2 linked regions of the Homo sapiens genome follow. The protein of the gene in region 2 interacts with the protein of the main gene of each other region in a biochemical or structural test. Each region holds a gene or a part of one and is shown on either strand. Other genes may lie near its edges.

Region 1 (7,684 bases), on a different chromosome or scaffold from region 2:
TGCTTTTGCTCCACATAGATGTGTGCTAAGTTCAGCCACACATCACTAATATCTGCTGTTGCTTCTCTTACTTGGGCAAATACATCACGAGCTTCACGAAAATATCCTTTGTGGGCCAAAACAGCTCCTAAAGATATAAAAAGGTTCACACTTAACAATTTTCTAATTGGAGTCAGAAAAACAACTAAAAATTCTATTTTAAAACAACTACATTGATCACATTTTAAGAAAAATTCTGATTTACAAACATTCCTCTGAAAGTATTCATTTGAAACAAATTGTTATGGGTACTCAAGTCTTATAATCACCTATGCCATTGGCAGCATACAGATTCTTTGCATCATTTCTGAGTACTTGTTTGTAGATGGCCAGAGCACGATCTTGATGACGCTTTTCCTATAGAAACAAGTGCTCTTAAAAAAGATTCAAACGAGAATGTAGAGTATCAGTTTTGTTTAAAAGGACAAAAAGAGATTACCTTTTCTCGATCTCGGGTGGGCTGATGTAAAGTTTGGAGCCACACGTTGCCAAGGGCTAGCATAGAATAGGTATCACTCTGTGTGGATGGCTGTTTTAATATCCTCTCAAACTTCTTCTGCCCAGGACCCCATTCTTGTTTTGCCAAATGAAGATTGCCAATCAAAGACCAAGCATCTGGATGATCCTGAAACATACATACATGAAGAAGGAAAATCTGCAGTTTAGTTTGACAGAGATCAATCATCTTCCCACAATAGCTGATTACTGAAGAGGTTTACAAACTATATTACAACAGTGGTTTTCTTTCTTTTCTTTCTTTCTTTTTTTTTTTGCATGGCAATCCAAATTTATCGAACTACTAATGCTAAAGCTAAGTTATACAAAATTGCACCACTTTAATTAATGCTTTCAGTTTACATTTGGCCACCTCAAAGTAGTTGTAACATTAGGTTGGTCAATTTAAATACTGTGGCTCCCTGTTGGATAGACACACAATCTTTACATCCAGACATAAATGCATACAAAGCAACAAGGCACTGTTAAATAAAACAGCAATAGTTACTGCAAATTAGGCCTTGTGACCAATTACATATGATTAAAATTAGTTCCCCACATTCACATCCACAGTACTTGTCCACCATTTAAAATCTCAACCAAAACGTTACAAACGTGGAACCATCACTAACAGGCAAAAATACTAAACTATATTTGGTATTGCAAATACCCTTAGGCATGAGCAAGCATGGGATTCACAGTGAGAATCTACAGCTGCAGAAGCCTGAAAATGATTTACAAAAATTGTTAAATCATTAAAAAATTGTTTGAAAATATACACTTCTTGTTGTAGACCCCCACATGAGTGGTTTTCAAACTGAGTTGATACCCATTAGTAAGTTGTAAAATCCATTTAGTTAGTCTTTAGTTATCTGCATAGTAAATGCAACAGAATGGAATAAAGTAAAAATATCAGTGTATCGCCCATTGGCAAAAGCAAATAATGATTTGTGAAACTTTCATTTCAGTTGTTTGTCTATATATACATTTGTGTGTACTAGGCTATGATGTGAAATCTATTTCTTTTTGTGGGCCCTCAAAACGTTTAGATGACCATAGCTATGGTTCCATACAAAATCCTAAGATACTATGCTATAAAGTTCTCTCATATGGTACTAACTAAACTGAAAGTGAAGTAAACTAGTGAGAGTAAAAAACACAGGAGTCAGGTCACATTTGTTGAAGTGGAGTGAAAGGATGGGATGGGGGAAGGGAAGAAGGAAAAAGGAAGACAATAGGAAAGATTTACATAAAAAAACATGGTCCCTATTTATAACATGATTAATAATGCAACCTAGTACATTTTTAGTATCTAACAAGTAAATGAAAACAAAACAAAAAATGACAAAACCAGGAAGATGTAGCCATTAAAAGGAAAAACTGATTTATGGGGAAGGAAAAGTGAAAATAATTATTTCTCAAACCTAAGAGTTAATATTACCAACCTGATTAATCTGAAGAGCTTCCTTAAACCAATCTGAAGCCTCATAAAAGTTTCCCTTATCTCTAGCCATGGCTCCTAGGCGCAAATAGCCTGAAAACATATTTAAAAGTTTTTATATCCCAAATATTAGCTATAAAGGATCATAATTTTAAAGTCATACTTTTGAAACAATTTTTTTTCATTAATACCGCCATAAAAGGAACAGAAAAGTCCCAAAGGTGAAAAAATATCAATCATCCATCCAACAAGTTAAAGAATAATTTTGTCACCATCTAGACTTACTGTTTGAAATCTAAGACTTACCTCTGCCACTCCACTCCCAATGCTAGTTCCCTGGTCCAAGTCCTTATCTCAAGCTAAGTTATTTTAAAAGCTTGGAACCGGCCTGTTTCTAATTTCTCTCCAATGCACACCATTGTCAGTTACCTTTTTTTAAAAAAAGCTGCTTGTAATACGGCAAAACAGTGAAAGTCTGATGAATAGGTATTACTACTTAGAAGATCTGGGCTCTAACTGGGGTTCTTCCATTAATTAATAGTGAAGTGCTACACAAATGTAAGTTGTTGTTTTCTCTAGGAAATGTCACTTCTCTCAGGAAACCAATAATGGTTCACTACTGCCTATCAAATCAATTCAAATTCAGTCTGGCATTCAACTGAAATCTTGCTTATTTTAAATCACTTTTGCATCCATAACAGCATGATAGGCACCAAGTTAATAGCTCCTGATATGCCGGGCACGGTGGCTCACGCCTATAATCCCAGCACTTTGGGAGGCCATGGTGGATGGATCACCTGAAGTCAGGAGTTCTAGACCAGTCTGACCAACGTAGCAAAACCCCACCTCTACTAAAAACACAAAAATTAGTCGGACGTAGTCGTGGGCCCCTGTAATCCCAATTACTCGGGAGGCTGAGGCAGGAGAATCACTCCAACCCGGGAGGCAGAGGTTGCAGTGAGCCGAGATTGTGCCACTGCACTCCAGCCTGGGTGACAGAGCAAGACTCCATCTTAAAAACAAAACAAAACAAAAAAACAAAAAACCTCCTGATTTACTAGAGTCAAAACATCATGCTTTAGGTTCTTTTTAAAGAAAGTACAAAAACAAACAAAAAAACCCTCATACACACAAATAAAATTAAGTACACTATGTATATTATTATTATTTAAAATATAAAGATGGGGTCTTGCTACTGGGGTTGTTTAGGTTGGTCTTGAACTCCTGGACTCAAGCGATCCCGCTGCAGTGGCCTCCCAAAGTACTGGGATTCCAGGCATGAGCCACCATGCCAGGCCTAAATTATTTTTTAATTAAAAACTTTCCTTATTTTATAACGTATAGGTTGCGAAACTCAAATTAGGACATTTTAGCAATAATTGTTTAAAGGAAAAGCACTTTTCTTCCTCACTATTATAAACATTGTAAGAATGTTCATATGAAATCAAAGAAGGATGTTTCAAAGGTAAATGCATTATCAGATATGCCAAGGAGTTGTTAAAAGCCTAACAAAGGTAGCTGACCCACTGAAGATAACCTAGTCATTGAAATACGGTCCAATTGGTTTTAGTTGCTTATTTCTAGCACAAATGTAAGTAAAGCTGCACCTTTGTTTTAAGGCCACAAATTTGCCCTGGAGAAATGGGGACATTAGAACCTTAAACAATTTTTACTATCAATTCTAAATTTTTTTCAGGCTAAATTTTTGCTGCTCTTGTGGGAATGAACGGATTTCATTACATAAAGAAGTTTAAAATCCTTACAGTCAACATAATTAGGATGTTCGCGTAAGATGTTTTTATACAGTTTTTCTGCTTCATGGAATTCACACATCGCCTCATATAGCCTGGCGAGATTATATGACGTGGTAACGGAAATGGCGTTATAGTAATGCTCATCGTGTTCCGCTTCTGCTTTTGCACGGTCCAATGACGCCAAAAAATATTTCTATGAGAAAGAAAAATCACACTGTTAAAAGATTTAGTTTATACACTTTTTAAAAAGGTGTGCATGCAACTTGATTCAGTATAAAAGAAGGAAATATTTCTATTTTCCTACCTTAGCCTCCCCTAGGTTTCCAAGTCTAAAATGGAGGGCACCCACATTATTGAGAATCTCTGGAGGAACATCGGCCTGCACTTTCTCCTGAAGGATTCGTGTTGCTGTTCCATAGGCTGAAAGGGCACCCTGTATTTTCATGATTGACAGAAAAAGGTGTAAGTGGAAGAGAGACACTACACCAGGCTTACAAAAAACACATCATATGAGAGATTAAAAAACATTACTAAAATACCTGTATATCAGTCTGTTCTAAGATTTGTGCCAATTCAATCCAAGCTTCAACATCATCGGGATACTGTTCTGTGACCTTCTTCAAATGGCCCTGGGATAAAAGAGATTGTTAAGCTGAAGTATTCCATCTATAGGTTGTCAAAATAAAAAGTGGGGGCTATGTAAGTCTGTTTAATAAATCCATTGTTTGTTATCTAAACTGGAACAAGCTCAGCTAACAAAACTGTTTCTATCATATTTCTACTAGCAATAACAGGAAATGAGAAATGGGAGTTTTGGGACAGCTAACAGAAAACAGCTAAGACTTTAAAAAAAAGATGTACCTTGGCAATATCTCGTTTTTCTTGATCTTCTGAGGCAGCATAGAGAGAGCCGAGAATTTTCATAGTTTCGTAATTATTAGGATAAGCTTTCAAAACCTTCTCAAAGCACTGAGATGCATTTTCTTTGTCACCTCGATAAATATACATTTGTCCCAAACCAAAAAATGGGAGCACAAAAGAGGATGAGGCAAACTGTGTGGCTTGATAATAGTACTGAAAAGCTTGGTCATAATCTTCCTAAAGAATGAAAATTAAAAAAGACCAATATGTACAAAAGTATTGGAAAGACTTAAAACACTATAAGTAAAAAGATTAGACATTTAGAGAAGTTATAAAATTACCTGAACATGGAATGATCTAGCTAGCTGATAGCAGCTCTCTGCTTGCATAGCTTCCACTTCTGTATTATGGAATGCATGGAGGGCCAGATGCTGGACTTTACTATAATCCTGAACAAAGATCAGAAAGTCAACTGAGTGAATTCATAAGACTAGCTTGCATAGCTGTTTTATCTTAGACTAACACTTCGTTTACCTGTAAGATACATTTCCATCTTCTTCATAAATAGTTGCCTTTCAGTGCTATAACAGTTATAACCTAATCAATAATTCACTATGAAAGGGGAGTATGTTTCTACAGCCAGAAAGAGTAAAGCACTGTGGTTAGTCTAAGGTCACATAACTATTAACCACAGTGCTTTACTCTCTCTGGCTGTAGAAACATACTCCCCTTTCATAGTGAATTACTGACTTTAGACTATTAACTCTTCCTCAACTTATCCACCCACAAAATGGGAATAAGATTACCTACATCATAGAATTATTGTGAAGATTACATAAGTAAATACATAAAGCGCACTTTTTTTTTTTTTTGAGACAGGGTCTCACTCTGTTGCATGGGCTGGAGTGCAGTGGCGCCATCATGGCTCACCACTGCAGCCTCGACCTCCCAGGCTCAAGTGATCCTCCCACCTCAGCCTTCTGAGTAACTGAGACTACAGGTATGTGCCACCATGTCCAGCTAATTTTTAAAAATTTCTGTAGAGATGAGGTCTCACTATGTTGCCAGTGTTGGTCCTGAACTCCTGGGCTCAAGCAATCCTCCCACCTAGGCCCCTCAAAATGCTGGGATTACAGGCATGAGCCACTACTCCCAGTAGATTTAGTATTTTAAGAAACCTAAAATACCACTGCTTCTACAGAATTAGTGGCAACTTAAAAAATACAACATGATTAACATGCAAAATAAAAATGTCAGTGACTCCTTGTTCCCTACATAGCATGTCCAAATTCTGGTATTACAAAAATGCTCCACTATCTGAATCCAAAGCATTGCCTACCATAAGTATATTATACACTATTTCATAGATTTGTGTGTCTTTCCCTTTTCAACTCTCTAGTGACCTCTTCCTAAAAACCTAGTTCAAAAGCTCTGCAGCCTTGGTGAAAATTCACCTAAGCCATCTGACCACTTCCTCATTTCTCTACCATAAATGAGTAGATACCTTTATTTTTACACTTACATTTGTTTACATGGCTGCTCTTTCTATGAAATTGAACTCCTTGAGTACAGACACCATGTTTTACTAATCTTCACATCACTACCACAGTGTTGGGTACAGTATATAGGGGTCAATAAATATTAAGCAAATAAATGAATAAACAAATGTAGGTACCCCCAGGTAACTAATACAACAAACTCTATAATTTGGAGGGGGGAAAAAATCTGACATTTTCAAATTTCTTTCCAAGTTTAAAAAAGAAATAAAATATCAATTGCAGTACAGAAAAACAAAAATCAGAATTTAAAAATAAATGACTTCTACCTTTTTGAAGAAAAAGTGATTTGCCAAATGGTTCAATACCATAGGGTTGCTAGGATCAATAGTATAGGCTCTGGAAAGAAGCTGGACACCATTTTTAATGGAATCAGCCTAAAAGAAAACATTGCAACAAGGTGGAGTGAAAACAATACTAAATTAGCACTTTTCAAGAAGTTTTCTTTAGTCACAAGAAATAAGTTATAAATCCTAAGATCAGACACTAAAACGGATTAGAAGCTTCTTATGATTTTAAATATCTATATTGCATTTGTAATTAAATCTCTCTTTTAATCCTTAATTTTTTTGTGTGTCACTTTTTTCCCCTTTTTATTTTCTTGTTCAGTTCTTGCTTGAGACTTATCTCATCTACTTTATTAGTCCCTGCCCCTACTTCTCCCACAAAGAGCCACCTTTGTTTTTATTTATTTATATTAATTTTTATTTTTTTCAGACAGGATCTCACTGTGTTGCCCAGGATGGAGTACACTGGCATGAACACAGCTCACTGCAGCCTTGACCTCCTGGGCTCAAACAATCCTCCCACTTTGATCTCCCAAAGTGTTGGGATTATAGGTGAGAGCCACCATGCCTGGCCTCTACCACCTTTGGTTTTATTGATCCGAGCTGTTTTCTTCGTGTGACTGATACTGGTGGATTACCCAACAGCCATTTGGGTTGGTAACATCCTGCTAACAGAATCCAGATTTTGTAGCCTGTGAAAATCTTTTGAGTTTAGGAAGGAAAGTTCCCTTCCCCCCTTCCCCAGGCCCGGGGGATGAATCATGATTGATCTACACCAGTCCAGATAATCTTTTCCTCTGGCCTAAGGTAGTGGTTCTCAACTGGGGATGAAGTCATGTTTGGTTATCACAATTGGAGGAACGCTATCGGCATTTAGTGGGTAGAGGCCCGGGATGCTGTTAAAACATTCTATAATGGAAGGGACAGTTCCCCACAACAAAGAATTATCCAGCCCAAAACATCAATAGTACTGAGGCTGAGAAACCCAGGTATCCCTGTTTTGGACAATTATACATAAGGGGAAGCATGATGGAGAGCTTCCTTCTCAATATAAGACAGGGCTTCTCTAAGAGAAAGCCTTTTTATCCTTTCTCTTTCCTCCCTCTTTATAAGACCGATGTAATAATGAGAAGCTGGAGATGCTGCAGCCATCTTGTGACTATAAGGTGACAGACATGATGAAGAAAGGCTGCACATTAAGGAAGGGAGGACGGAATTATATAAAATCATAGGTTTGACGACAAGGACCTA
Region 2 (7,684 bases):
CCCATCTACTTGGGAGGCTGAGGCAGGAGAATCGCTTGAACCCAGGAGGGGGAGGTTGCGGTGGGCCAAGATCGTGCCATTGCACTCCAGCCTGGTCAACAAAAGCAAAACTCTGTCTCGAAAGAAAAAAAAGTAAAACACGTTTGTTTTTAGAAAATAATTTAGTGTAATCACATTAAAAGCATGGAAACAGTTGGAGGGGGAGCAAAGTACTGACAAAAGACACAATCACCTTAAGTATTTGTCTAGTATATAAATATATCAGAATAACGGAAATTTATTACATATGCAATATTTATATAGTAGTCTATGATGATAATAGGCTTTACACTTCACAACACAGAATCACATTATAGAAACCTCAGATTCACACATACTCACCTCTGCTGTCATTCTAGCAAATAAGTCAGGAGGAATATTCCCACAGAGGACATTTTTCCTTAAATTTGGATTTTTTGCATCTTTAAGATTTGATATCCTACTTCGTACTCTATTTTTGTATTTCATGTCTGTATTCCTTATTTCTTGATATATAGGTACCAGGCCGTTAAGGAAAAAAGGCAAAATTACAAAAGTAAGATCACTTTTTTTTCCTGTTCTGCCAAAATAAGAATTCCTGAGGCCAGGCACGGTGGCTCATGCCTGTAATCCCAGCACTTTGGGAGGCTGAGGCTGGTGGATCACGAGGTCAGGAGATCGAGACCATCCCGGCTAACATGATGAAACCCCGTCTCTATTAAAAACACAAAAAATTAACCAGGCATGGTGGCAGGTGCCTGCAGTCCCAGCTACTCGGGAGGCTGAGGCAGGACAACCACTTGACCTGGGAGGCAGAGGTTGCAGCGAGCTGAGATCAGGTCACTACACTCCAGCCTGGGCGACAGAGGGACACTCCATCTTAAAAAAAAAAACAAACCTGAAATTTCTAAGCAATTCACGACAACTGTTTCCAATTTAGAGTATGTTAAAAACAAGGTACTATATCTAATTCCTTGAGCTGTAATTGGCGAATAATAGTGATATTACTTTTACACTGTAAAGTAGTTGTTTGTTTTGAAGGTGGGTAGAAGGAGTCTCACTCTGTCACCCAGGCTGGACCTCAGCTCACTGCAACCTCCACCTCCCGGGTTCAAGCAGTTCTCCTACCTCAGCCTCCCGAGTAGCTGCTGCGATTATAAGCGCCTGCCACCATGCCCGGCTAATTTTTGTATTTTTAGTAGAGACGGGGTTTCACCATGTTGGCCAGGCTGGTCTCAAACTCCTGACCTCAGGTGATCCACCCGTCTCGGCCTCTCAAAGTGCTGGGATTATAGGCGTGAGCCACCGCGCCCGGCCTAGTCATGTTTTATTTCCTAAATGTTTAGTGCCAGCAGTATGCAAGTCAACAGGGTTTCAAAAAGTAACTCAAGTACTCAACATGAGAAAGCACATGTTTGAAAAGGAGCTTGAACTTATTCAAGCTTTACTTGCCCAAATCCGAATTCTACTAAGGATCCTAAAGTCTCTCTGGTCACACAGTTCCCACAGGGTCTCTGAGAAGAGACCATTCAGCATGGCCGTGAGGGTTCCTCTCCTCCCCCAGCTCAGCAGGAGCTACCTCAGCAGGCTCTTCTTCTCTGCAGAAGAGGCCACTGCCAAAGCTGAACCCTGGAACAGCTCCCTTCCTAATAAGGCCATTTCCTCAACCAGGACAATCTCATGTTACACAGCCACCTAGATGCTCCCTGCCCCTACTCACACACAGTACCCCTCTCCTGGAGCCCTTTCCCGGTGCTTAGCAAGAACACGCTTCCTCTGGGATAATGAGCTCAGGTGACTGTGTGTGCTCTGAGGTCCCCCTAACTGAGAAGTCTTCACATTTATATGTGTGTGCTTTCCATGCCCTTTTGCACAACTTAAATTCAGACACTACAGTCTCAATCTACAAGGCAGAAAAATTTAAATGTCATAAATGCCATCAATACTGTACTTTCCTTTTCAATAACAGGAAAAACAAGACAAATAAAATGACATAGATGTCCCTCTCCTTTCCAAGAAAACAATACAATCAAGATAAAAAGTGAAGAATAAGACTTTGAATTCTATACCAACAGGAAAAATTAAGCTAGCAGATTACTTAAAACAATTATGACCACTTGAAGTTGTGTGACACCAAGAGACCTTTCTGGCTGGTAGCAGAAGTAATAGATGTCACTCCTCAGCAGTAGTTTTGAAAGCCAGTATGCAATTTATCCATTTTACCTTCTGCCACATCACCACTCACAATGGCCAATCCACCTGCCTGGTCCTAGAGGACAATGACCCAAAGCCCAGAGTCCTCAGCTAGCCTGTGATGAACATATAGGACAAATACATTCCTGTTTGTCCAGTTTAATCTGTGAAAGAAACCTCTGTGGTGTTAAGCCACTGAAATTTCAAGGTTGTCACCATAATATAACACAGCCTGTCCTGCCAAGTACATAAAGTCAATCTTGGACACTCATGTTTTGCTAGGAAAGCGAAATTCTTTAGGTTTTCAAATTGCCAACGAGATACACCCAATGTTCTCATGTATTTTGTAATCTCTTCTAATTATGTTATCGGTTTGCCTTTCTTGTTCTCAATCATATTTTCACTCTCCTGCTATCTGAAGCAATTTTACTAGGGATTTATATGTTTCAGTTTCCAAAGAGCCAGGTCCTTTTAAACTTCGCTGTTTCTAGTTCATTCAGCTTCAACATGAAGGAAAAAGTCTAGCGTGGTGGTCAAGGTCATGGGCTTGGAGCCAAATTCCCTACAATGGAATCCCAGCCCTGTCAGTGTCAGGCTGTGTGATCTAGAACAATGACCAATCCTCTTCTGCTTCTGTTTTCTCTCTGTAAAATGGGATGAGAGCACCTAATTCATTGGAAGGACTACTGCATGTAAAACCGTGCCTGGCATTTGCATATGTTCAATAAATATTACTTATTAAAAAAAACAATTATGAATATACACACAAAGGATATCTTCTTCAATTTGAGATCCTAATTCTTCCTCATCAGCTCCAATTGCAATGTAGTCATCTAAAAATAGGCATAAAGAATTGTCAAATTATTGTAACAGATTAAAAGAAAATTCTAATACCAGGTAATTAAACTGCATTCCTATTTCTTAAACCCCATTTGCCTGACATAAAGAAACCGTTCAGTTTAGTTCGTTAGAATCTGATCACTTCACTGCCCGCTAGACTTCTTTTCTGGGCTTCACCTGATACCCACAGTGCTCCTGCACTGATGATTCCTGATCCCTCAGGCACAGGAAGTAACTGATCTAGCAGGCAATTCATTTTTCGTAACTCCATAAATTCTGGCTGCTCCAGCAGAGTAGAGAAAGTTACAGAAAGAACTGTCTAGTCTCCTGTGACTCAGGCTTCAATGCAAAGAAATCATTTAGTTAATCTGCCAATCACATATACAGACACACTCAGAAGACTGCTATACAAATATGCAAGAGGATAGAAGGAAATAAACTAGGCAGAAAAAATAAAAGAGACAGTCAGGAAATCAAAGTAGAAAGGGCAGAGTAAGGAGAAAATCAGGTCAAACTAGCCATGGTGCAGAATGAGAGAAAAGAAAAAGGATGAATTCGTATAAAATAACAAATATTCCTGTATATAAAACTTTAAATCCAAATGTTACATGTTAAGACTGGATACTTTCAAATTAAATTAAGCTCCCATATATAAATCAAGACTCACCCTCCCTTTTTCTAACTAGAAAATGGAAAACATTCATACTATATGTCATACTATTCAACAATTCAGTATTGTTAACTCTCAATATAAGATCAGGGTATGTAGTTTGCAGATTAAATTGTGGGGAAACAAAAGATTTGTGAGAAAAAAGTGTACATTACTATGAAATCAGGGAAAACATCCATGTATTAGAGGGAATCTATTTCTTACAATTACATAGTAATAAGCAAATGCCCCAGTATTCCTCCTCCTCTCCCCCTTAACAGACCCGTATCAGCAACAACTTCTCCCCAAGCTAAGCAGCAGTGGGTGGGCTATCCACAGGGTAACACTCATCAAACAGCAATATGGAGTTGGAGATGGCAGTGGTTGTGGGTGGTGACCAAAGGACTGAGAAATAACATGCACTGGACTTACCCCCTGTTCGAAGAGCTGCAGCAAGCATCTCCCTACACTTCAACCGCACAGAATCAGAAGTGCTTGGTGCCCGAGGAAAGGATGAAACATAAGTATCTCGAGCATTTGTCTCATCCTTTCTGTTGCTTACATTGCCGCTGGAAGTACTGAAATACGCACAAACACCCCAAAAAGAAATCAAGAACAATCCTTTCAAAGTAACAATACTACTATCATGCTGTAAAAACAAAATTTGGGGTCTAAATAAATGACACAGTATCTCAGTGACCTTTATGTGATGGAAAAAAAATTGCCTGCATACAGATTAAAAAGAAGTTAAAAATTTTACAATTTAGTAAAGTGACAAGTATGCCTTTTTTTTGAACTAAACATTTTATCTTTGATTCTCATTTTAAATATTAAGCAATATTTTTAATAGAGAAAATACCCATTATAGCTCAGTACAATAAATGAAAAGCAATGATCTTGGTATAAGGAGAGGGATGAAGGGATGGGACCAGAGAATGACAGCTTTCTTTTTTGAGACGGAGTCTTGCTCTGTCACCCAGGCTGGAGGGCAATGGTGCAATCTCGGCTCACTGCAAGCTCCACCTCCCAGGTTCACACCAGAGAATGACAGCTTTCAACCAAAACTAGAGATAGAGAGAGAGAATGCTTGAAAAACTCTGTTTCACTGGGCATGGTGGCTCACAGCTGTAATCCCAGCACTTTGGGAGGCCAAGAGAGGCAGATCACTTGAGGCCAGTAGAGTTCAAATCCAGCCTGGGCAAAATGGTGAAACCCCGTCTCTATTAAAAATACAAAAATTAGCTGGGCGTGGTGGCACACGCCTGTAATCCCAGCTACTTGGGAGGCTGAGGCAGGAAAATCGCTTGAACCCAGAGGCAGAGGTTTCAGTGAGCCAAGACTGCACCACTGCACTCCAGCCTGGGTGACACAGCGAGACTCCACCTCAAAAAAAAAAAAGAACAAAAAGAAAAAGGAAAACCTTGTTCCACTTAGACAGTGAGTTCCCCAGTGAGACAAATACCATGTGTACTGATGAGTCATGAGGCTACAAAATGGTGTGTTTCTCCCCAGAAACATCACCTCGATATGAACATTTAGGCAGTTTTATAATTTTCCAGTCAACCTAATCCTTTCAATTGCTTCTGAGTAGCTTCTTACGTTGGATTATCACTAAAATGGGTTCTTTCCAAAATAATCTTCATGATTACAATTAAGCTTTATCACATTGAAAACAGCTGCCATAACCCTTTTCAAAGACTGATTAAATCATCCACCATCCATAGATGTGGTTTGCTGCAATGCTACAAGAACATACTCCCTTGCCTTCTCTCCAAAACATAACCACTGTTAAACTTCACAAACAGGTGCCTGTGGGTCAGACGGACATTAGTACCTTTTAAATTTAGTCAGTTCCTTTTTGAAGCCTTCACTGATTTCCCCCTGTATTCCCAAAATATTGATTCACACAGGTTTGTATATGATAACTTTTCATACATTTTCTTCTCTATCAGACTGAGTTTCTCAAGAGCAAAAACTAGGATTTACTTTTCTTTGTATTTTCATTATGTAGCATAATGCCTCTCAGTGATAAATGAATGAGCAAACTAATGCTTAAAAACCCATTTATTATTTTTTTTTTTAAGACTCCAGCCTGAGCAACTGAGCAAGACTTTTCACAGTGGTGAAGAGAGCAAGAGTTGTGCAGTGGTGCCATCACAGCTCATGCAGCTTTGAACTCCTGGGCTCAAGCAATCCTCCTGCCTCAGCCTCCTGAGTAACTAGGACTACAGGTGCATGCCACCATGCCCAGTTAATTTTAAAAATATTTTTTGGCCGGGCAAGCTGGCTCATGCCTGTAATCCCAGGAGTTCAAGAACAGCCCGGACAAAATAGTGAGACCCAGGGTCTACAAAAAGAGTTTTAAAAATTTGCCAAACATGGTGGTATGCACCTGTGGTCCTAGCTACTTGGGGGCTGAAGTAGGGGGCTCGCTTGAGACTGAAAGGTTGAGGCTGCAGAAAGCCTTGACTACGCCACTGCACTCCATCCTGGGTAAAAGAGCAAGACTCTGTCTCCAAAAAAAAAAAATAATCCAACAAACAAACCTTTTTTTTTTGGTAGAGAAAGGGTCTATGTTGTCCAGGCTGGTCTCAAACTCCTGACCTCAAGTGATAATTCCGCCTCGGCGTCCTAAAGTGCTTGAGCCACCGTGCCAGGCCCCAAAACTCATTTCTTTTCTTTTTTTTTTTTTTTTTCTTTTGAGACAGTCTTACGCTGTCACCCAGACTGGAGTGCAGTGAAACAACCATGGCTTACTGCAGCCATGACCCCCAAACTCAGACGGTTCTCCTGCCTCAGCCTCCCAAGTAGCTGGGACCACAGGCATGTGCCATCACACCTGTCTAATGCTTTTTATTACTTGTAGAGACAGGGCCTCCCTATGTTGCTCAGGCTAGTCTCAAACTCCTGGGCTCAAGTGATCCCCCTACCTTGACCTCCCAAAAGTGCTGACATTACAGGTGTGAGCCACCACACCCAGCCAAAAACCCAGTTCTTAAACACTTTGATTAAATGCTTTTGCTTCTGTGTCTGTAGCCAAATGCTCCACAGGAACCAAGGGAAATTGCCCATATGGGCTGAGGGAAACTTTTCCTCACTAGTTTCACTACTGCTGGTCCCACTTCCTACATTCTGATCCTTCCTTTCTAAGCATTTAAACACATTACTTTCTTCTTAAATTCTTGCACCCAAAATATAAAATCCTGCTTAGCTACAAGCAACTTAGATTTAACCTTCTATCTTTCTTTACATGACTCCTCAAAATTCATTTCTCAATCCTCCTGTATTTCTGTGTGTGTTGGGGCGGGGATGGGGTGTAGATAGATACCAATCAGTTACTTTATCAGACTTCACATACAGTAATTTTCTTTTGCAGACAGGCTCTATACCTACACGTCAAGCACGTAAAACTGATAAAAGACAACGAGAGGCCAGGCGCAGTGGCTCACGACAGTAATCCCAGTACTTTGAGAGGCCAAGGTGGGTGGATCACTTGAGGTCAGGAGTTCGAGACCAGCCTGGTCAACATGATGAAACCCCATCTTTACTAAAAGTACAAAAATTAGCTGGGTGTGTTGACGTGCACCTCTAATCCCAGCTACTCGGGAGGCTGAGACAGGAGAATCGCTTGAACCTGGGGGACAGAGGTTGCAGTGAGGCAAGATTGTGCCACTGCATTCCAGCCTGGGCAACAGAGCAAGACTCCGTCTCAAAAAAAAAAATAAAAACAAGGCTGGGCGCGGTGGCTCAGGCCTGTAATCCTAGCACTTTGGGAGGCCAAGGCGGGCGGATCACCTGAGGTCAGGAGTTCAAGACCAGCCTGATCAAAATGGAGAAACCCCGTCTCCACTAAAAATACAAAATTAGCCAGGCATGGTGGCACATGCCTGTAATCCCAGCTACTTGGGAGGCTGAGGCAGGAGAATCCCTTGAATCCAGGAGGCAGAGGTTGCGGTGAGCTGAGATTGTGCCATTGGACTCCAG

Evidence for each region. Proteins that work in one complex are often made in the same cells at the same time.
Region 1: the proteins of TCEA1 (region 2) and CTR9 form a complex in vitro, tested with the Homo sapiens proteins (2 studies listed by BioGRID).

The regions. Positions count from the first base shown.
Region 1 is NC_000011.10:10,760,786-10,768,469, reverse strand, and holds part of CTR9 (RNA polymerase-associated protein CTR9 homolog), read right to left. Parts: intron 6,524-7,684; coding exon 6,416-6,523; intron 5,040-6,415; coding exon 4,932-5,039; intron 4,828-4,931; coding exon 4,591-4,827; intron 4,359-4,590; coding exon 4,269-4,358; intron 4,163-4,268; coding exon 4,034-4,162; intron 3,923-4,033; coding exon 3,739-3,922; intron 2,069-3,738; coding exon 1,980-2,068; intron 665-1,979; coding exon 479-664; intron 397-478; coding exon 309-396; intron 128-308; coding exon 1-127. UniProt on the Homo sapiens protein: Component of the PAF1 complex (PAF1C) which has multiple functions during transcription by RNA polymerase II and is implicated in regulation of development and maintenance of embryonic stem cell pluripotency.
Region 2 is NC_000008.11:53,983,982-53,991,665, forward strand, and holds part of TCEA1 (transcription elongation factor A protein 1), read right to left. Parts: intron 4,279-7,684; coding exon 4,133-4,278; intron 3,045-4,132; coding exon 2,988-3,044; intron 537-2,987; coding exon 382-536; intron 1-381. Other genes in the region: LYPLA1-TCEA1 readthrough, read right to left, coding at 382-536, 2,988-3,044, 4,133-4,278.